Homo sapiens: one gene and its partner. The protein of the gene in region 1 purifies or fractionates together with the protein of each later gene. This does not show direct contact. Each region holds a gene or a part of one and is shown in the gene's direction. Other genes may lie near its edges.

What was found.
Region 2: the proteins of ZNF215 (region 1) and HERC4 purify together in Homo sapiens (affinity purification with mass spectrometry; one large-scale study listed by BioGRID and IntAct). This does not show direct contact.

Annotation. Positions count from the first base shown.
Region 1 is NC_000011.10:6,953,709-6,957,747, forward strand, and holds part of ZNF215 (zinc finger protein 215), read left to right. Parts: intron 1-1,981; coding exon 1,982-2,823; 3' UTR 2,824-4,039. UniProt on the Homo sapiens protein: May be involved in transcriptional regulation.
Region 2 is NC_000010.11:67,956,784-67,960,283, reverse strand, and holds part of HERC4 (probable E3 ubiquitin-protein ligase HERC4), read left to right. Parts: intron 1-1,147; coding exon of another isoform or gene 1,148-1,171; intron 1,172-3,307; coding exon 3,308-3,406; intron 3,407-3,500. UniProt on the Homo sapiens protein: Probable E3 ubiquitin-protein ligase involved in either protein trafficking or in the distribution of cellular structures. Required for spermatozoon maturation and fertility, and for the removal of the cytoplasmic droplet of the spermatozoon.

The DNA of each region.
Region 1 (4,039 bases):
TCATCTGAAGCCTTCTTCTCTCAACTCGTCAAAGTCATTCTCCGTCCGGCTTTGTTCCGTTGCTTGTGAGGAACTGCGTTCCTTTGGAGGAGGAGAGGCACTCTGCTCTTTAGAGTTTCCAGTTTTTCTGCTCTGTTTTTTCCCCATCTTGGTGGTTTTATCTACTTTTAGTCTTTGATGATGGTGATGTACAGATGGGTTTTTGGTGTGGATGTCCTTTCTGTTTGTTAGTTTTCCTTCTAACAGACAGGACCCTCAGCTGCAGGTCTGTTGGAGTTTGCTAGAGGTCCACTCCAGACCCTGTTTGCCTGGGTACCAGCAATGGTGGCTGCAGAACAGCGGATTTTTGTGAACCAGAATGCTGCTGTCTGATCGTTTCTCTGGAAGTTTTGTCTCAGAGGAATACCCGGCCGTGTGAGATGTCAGTCTGCCCCTACTGGGGAGTGCCTGCCAGTTAGGCTGCTCGGGGGTCAGGGTTCAGGGACCCACTTGAGGAGGCAGTCTGCCCGTTCTCAGATCTCCAGCTGCGTGCTGGGAGAACCACCGCTCTCTTCAAAGCTGTCAGACAGGGACATTTAAGTCTGCAGAGGTTACTGCTGTCTTTTTGTTTGTCTGTGCCCTGCCCCCAGAGGTGGAGCCTACAGAGGCACGAAGGCCTCCTTGAGCTGTGGTGGGCTCCACCCAGTTCAAGCTTCCTGGCTGCTTTGTTCACCTAAGCAAGCCTGGGCAATGGCGGGAGCCCCTCCCCCAGCCTCGCTGCCACCTTGCAGTTTGATGTCAGACTGCTGTGCTAGCAGTCAGGGAGACTCCGTGGGTGTAGGACCCGAGCCAGGTGCAGGATATAATCTCCTGGTGCGCCATTTTTTAAGCCTGTCGGGAAAGCGCAGTATTAGGGTGGGAGTGACCCGATTTTCCAGGTGCCATCTGTCACCCCTTTCTTTGACTAGGAAAGGGAACTCCCTGACCCCTTGCGCTTCCCGAGTGAAGCAATGCCTCGCCCTGCTTCGGCTTGCGCAGGGTGCACTGCACCCACTGTCCTGCGCCCACTGTCTGGCACTCCCTAGTGAGGTGAACCCAGTACCTCAGATGGAAATGCAGAAGTCACCCGTCTTCTGCGTCACTCACGCTGGGAGCTGTAGACCGGAGCTGTTCCTATTCGGCCATCTTGGCTCCATATATGAAATTTAATTTTTAAAAAATTGCTAGAATATAGAGTATACAGAGTATATAGAAGCTAAATGAGAGGAATTTTGAGAAAGGAAGTGGAACATAATTAAATAAAACGGAAATGAGGACAGGTGAAAGGAAGAGACCCAATCTTAATTAGAACGGTAAAGTTTTGAATTCTAGGAAGTACAGTAGAAAAGTACCAAAGCACTAATGTTGGAATTGGGAGTTATTTTGAGCCCAGAAAAAGGACTTCCTGCTATCTTATATTAGAGTTCTTTTTGCCTTTGTTATATGTAGGGAGTAATTGTGGCTGTATGGAAAATGGGGGCACTATGATTGCAAGTTTGCTTTTAGCTGGTTAAGGTATGGTGCCTGGGAATACAGACATGTTCTTAAAATTATTACTGGTGTTTTATAGAAAGGAATATTTATTGGTAAACAGCTTGGGATAAACAAGATGCTAGAAGAAGGAATATTAGGCAGAGACTTCATACACTAGTTACGAACCAGTGATAACTTGAATTATGATATGATATGCCACCCGCATCCTTGTTCATGTAAAGATATTTTACTCGAGCCCTATACCGTTTTTTTAGTATTCCAGAATAGCTCTCCTATTTTATTTACTAACCTCCTTTTAACATTTTTGTACCATTTATTTCTTTTATAAGTATTTTTTTCTAACCTTGCCTCACATTTCCATTCTGTATTTAAGACCCGTGGTATATGCATATACCTTATACAGTTCAGCCTCCATTTCCTATTGAAGCAGTTTCCCTTCTAGTTCATGGCATTTTTTATTTCTCTTTAGACATGAAGAGTATTTCTGGAGAAGAATCATCCCATGGAGTGATTATGACAAGGCTTACCGAAAGTGGACACCCTTCTTCAGATGCCTGGAAAGGTGAGAATTGGTTATATAGGAACCAGAAAAAATGGGACATAAATTTGCCACAAGAGGCTTTCATTCCTGAGACAATTTACACTGAGGAGGAAGATTTTGAATGTAGTGAAAATAAGAAAAGCTTTGATATTAATTCAGTTAGCTCAATTTGTGCTATACAAGTGGGAATTCCTTCAAGAAAGGGGTCTCCAAAATGTGATAAGTTTAAAACTTACTTCAAATTTAATTTAGACTCAGTAGGTAAGCAACATTCAGAATATGAATATGGGAATGACTTGAGTTTGAGTACAGATATTCGACACCAAAAAAGTCATACTACAATGAATTCCTATGAATGTTATCAATGTGGGAAAGCCTTCTGCCGAAGTTCATCCCTTATTCGACATCAGATCATTCACACAGGAGAGAAACCCTATAAATGCAGTGAATGTGGGAGATTCTTCAACCGACGTACAAACCTTACTAAGCATCAAAAACTTCATGCTGAAGCAAAGGCCTGCACAAGCAATAAATGTGGAAAGGCCTTCAGTAAAAGTGAAGACAGTAATAATCCAACACTCCATTTTGGAAACAATTTCTATCAATGTGTTAACTGTGGAAAATCCTTCAACCGGAGCTCCTCTCTTATTCGACACCAAATGATTCACACGGGAGAGAAACCATTCAAATGTAAGGAATGTAGTAAAGCCTTCAACAGGAGTTCAAACCTTGTTAAACATCAAAAACTGCATACTCGAGATAAGTCCTGAAAAAAGAAAAAATGAAAGATTACCTTCAGTCAGAATGCAGAACTCATTTAACATCATGAATTTATGCTGGATAAAATCTCATGAATATAATGTAAGAAAACATTTGTCAGATTTTTCTTTAAATGATATCACAGAATTAATGTTGGATAGAAATATCATTGGATAGAAATCTGTTTGAAGGAATTTTCCTGGTTTTCAGATGAAGCCATAAGGCTTTGGAGTTAAACCACAGTATCACCATACAAGTATTTGTTTATCATTATTTTGATATCCATTACCCTCACCTCTCCCTAGTTCATAAATAGGTCTATAGCATACTAATATCCACCTGATTTATTGACGAAGTAGACATTAGGCAAAGCCAAACAATACTCTTGGAGTTGATATTTAATAAAACTCAGCCCTTTTAAGAAGGTCACAAGAAATCATTAGCTCATGCGAATATAAGAGAATACTTCTAAGGACAGAAATCTCTGAATCAATGGCTAAGACAACAGTAACAGCCATTTACTCCACTCCTGACAATACCCTTTGTTGTCTTGCTGTTGAATGGAGACTAGAGTTGGGAAAGGGTTATCAACTGCAATGGGAGAAGTATGTATTGCTGTTAATCTATATGTATTCTTAAAATCTGCATTTGTTTATAGCAGGTCCTTGAAAAATGTTTTTGTTTTGTTATAATGTTATAATTGTTATGATGTTGATGAGAAAAATATCGATTCCCAGCCAGGGACACTGTGTGGAGTTCGCACACTCTCCCTATGTCTCCGGGTGCTCCAGTTTCAAACCCCAAAGATGTATACATTAGGTTAATTGACATATCTAAATTATCTCAGTCTGAGTTTGTGAGGAAGTGTGCCCTGCAGTGGAATGGCTCCTAATCAGGGTTTGTTCCCACCATTGCCCTGAGCTGCTAGGATGCGCTCTGTCCACCCATGGCCCTGTACTGGAATAACAGGGTAAATAATTATCTTATCTGTTTTTATTAATCCGTCTTAAATGTGTATATAGCTCAGATTTATTTTAATGTCTGATATTGGAAGCGTTTGGGGTCTTTAGAAGTTTGATGATGTTGTGACCAGACATTTGCCTTAGGAACTTAACTCTTGTTTGTATCCATTAGTCTATGGTAAAATTGGTTTTGTTATACATCATTTCACTTAAAGTTGCAGTTCCTAAGAACCTATTGATGATGTTCAGTGCAGACTTACTGTAC
Region 2 (3,500 bases), on another chromosome or scaffold:
TTCTGTTGTCCTTTCCATGTAGAGTCATGGATGAATTACTTTCCTGGCATAGATGTGTAACAATACAGAGTATTTCTAGCCAAAGAAGCTCACCAGAACCCTGGTGCCCAGAGTTTTTACTGGGGTTCAATCACATCCTGCTCCCGTAGTGACCTCTAGTTCCCAGCTCTTCTGGAAGCAGAACTGACAGCACATGGCCCAAGCCCCTATCATAAGTCACATTGTCCAGTGGCTAAAGCGCCAGGCAAACAAAGACACTCCTATCAGGCATGATATTGCACAGGTCTATAGGTCACCTCCTAGTAACCCAGGGCAATGCCCTCTCTTCTGGGGTAAAATTAATTCCTCACAACACAAGGCACCGTCCACAAATTTAGTAACATATTTCTGAAGATTCTGGTGCTTTACACGAGTCTGTGCTCTGAGCATATGTGGAAACTTTCTACAAGAAAATGTACATTTCTGTTCAATAAAGTGGTAAGCTTTCATTATAATTTCCACTATTACTGCCTTAATAAATATATCTTTCTCTCTTCATTTCTTTTTGCTTACCAACCCTTTTTCCCTGTCCTGTACTTTCTATTTTAAATTAATTCAGTTTTAAAGAATGCTTAATGTAAGATACCTTATGTTTTACTGTTTTTTTTTCTGTCAAATAAAAACAATTTATGGCTTATTTTTTCTTACTTTGTGTCCATATGGCATTTTAATCTACTAAACACTGTCAGACATTTTGCTGAGATTTTAAAGTCTTAAAGTCTGAGGAATGTTTTTTCCATTTTTTTTAAGTAGAAAAACTGAGCCATAAATTTTTTTTTTTAAGACCAAGCCAGGCATAGGATTAGTTTTCTTATTCTGCCTAAATTCTGCAAATGGGGGTGTTTAATTGCTGAAAACAAATTTCATTATGTTCAAGCCTCAATCATTTTATGATCACAAGGTACCTGAAACAAAGATCTTACATTAGTAGATATATAAGATGCTTGTGTAGGGGGTGTATTTGATTGTAGATGTATTTTCTACCTCATTACTTCAATATTCTGCTGTAGCAAAATATATGAAATGCTACCTTGAATAGAAATAGTTAAATTTGGACACTAATATTGCTCTTTCCTCGTTATTGTTATATTCTGCACTGCTGTCTTAGGATGTCAACCATGGATTAACTGAGGTAAGTTTGGTGTAATAAAGCTCATGTTTAGAGTAAAATATACTCCATTTTCTCCTGAGTAATAGAAGAGCCAAAGATTCGTTTTTTTGGTGTGGTTAAAAAATGTAAATAAATAGATATATATGTATCATTTTTTAAAATACAGTCTGTAGAGATTATCTTGTATAACATTTCAGAAGTTTTCTGAAGAAAATGAAATTCTGTTAACATTACACCTATATGATGCCTCAACAATATTTGCTTTAGAATAGTTTCTGTCCTCCTCAAGTCTTCCAGTATAAAATGTAATGTGTCCTCAGAATATAAAAAAGCAAACTTTTATTTTAAAATTTAGCAAATGCCTACCTAATGTGGCTGAAAACATTTTATATTAGAGAAGTAAAACAAACTTCATTTTTAAAATTGATTAATTGATACTCAGAATGGTCACAAAGTTAAACTTTTTGTATGATTATCTTTCTCACTTCTAATATATAAAGTTCTAGCACTTTGGTTTAAGTAATCAACAACCCTAGACTACCCTTTTAACACTTGGGAACATTATAATACTTTCTTTATCCGTTATAGATGTCAGGTTTTGCTTTGATTTGCATTTTGTTGGTTGCTATGTTTTTCCCAGCACTTGAACCAATGAAGCATTTTGAGTTAGCTTTAAATTATAGCTCTAATATTGTTTGCTTCCTCATTGTCAAATAGAATTAGCACATAAAATTATGAAAACATAGAGTTTTGAAGCCAAAGGGTGCTTTGGAGATATCTAAATCTTTTTGAATTTCAGAGAAGTAAAATTAGTTTTTATGATCATTAGCTAGGCAGTGCCACAAATATAGGATGGAGGTAAACCTTGTCACATGAAAAATACTGAAGAGTGAATGTTTAGAATGTAATAAAATACAATTTAGGGAGAGCATGATTAGGACTTAAAATATTTAAACTACGTACACTTCCCAGCAGGGGCAAAGCAAAGACTAAATGATGCATAGTGATATATAGAAATGCAGATTCAGGCTGGGCACAGTGGCTCACGCCTGTAATCCCAGCACTTTGGGAGGCCGAGGTGGGCGGATCATGAGGTCAGGAGTTCAAGACTAGCCTGGCCAACCTAGTGAAACCCCATCTCTACTAAAAATACAAAAAATTAGCCGGGTGTGGTGACAGGCACCTGTAATCCCAGCTACTCGGGAGGCTGAGGCAGGAGAATCGCTTGAACCCCAGAGGCGAAGGTTGCCGTGAGCCTAGATCGCACCATTGCACTCCAGCCCCGGCATCAGTGCAAGACTCTGTATGGGGGAAAAAAAAATGCAGATTCAGACTATAAAGAACTGTCTAATCACTAAGAAGTGGATTGTTTTAGGGTGTATTAATTCTTCATTAGAAGTCTCATAGCAGGGGCTCTGAGTCAGGGCAGGCACAAAGATATTGTTTTACTGGGTAGATGGTAGAAGTAGGTCGTCCTCCAACTACAAGAATGTGTGACTGGCAATTCATAACTCTTTATATTTTACTGCACTATTAAAATACTTAGCAATCAATATATTACCTGCCAGGATAAGTAATTGTCTATAAAGTGTCTAATGTCTAATAATGATAATAATAGATCAGTTCTCGTAACTTTAAAGGCTAACAGAATAGTAATACTAATGGTACTTTTTTGTATATTAAGTAAATGAAGAGATTATTGGACTCATAATAATTTTGATACCCTAATGACATTATACTCAATATCTGTTAAATGAAGGAATAGACAGATTACTTATCATTAGCCTCAGTTGCTGCAGTTGCCCTAACATGTAAGAATTGGCTATCGCATTTAACATAGGAGCCCCCAATTTTAGAACAAATTTGCAACCTCATTCACTGAGATTTGCAATTAACATATGCTAAGCAAAAGATACTTGCAGTATATGATTGTATAGACTCTCAAGTATACAGTCGCCCCCTAAAATTGGGAATTGGGTTCATTCCAATGCCTCATTTAATTTTTAATAATTCTGTAAGCAGCATGTTTTATTTGTAATTCCAGAACCACATGAGTGAATAAACAAAGAATGTAGTCCACTTTATAAGAAATGTCAGCATCCACAGTAAGTATATCACAAATCAACTTGTACTAATAAGTTAATTTTTTATTTCCAGTTGGCAGATATCCCTGTTACAATCTGTACATATCCATTTGTATTTGATGCCCAAGCAAAAACTACTCTGTTACAGACCGATGCAGTCTTACAGATGCAGGTAAAATATTATTTGAGAGGGTTTTTTTTTTTAATTGTTTCTTTGATGTTTCTGGACAGTAAATATTTGAAATTTTCCTAGGATCAGTAATGAA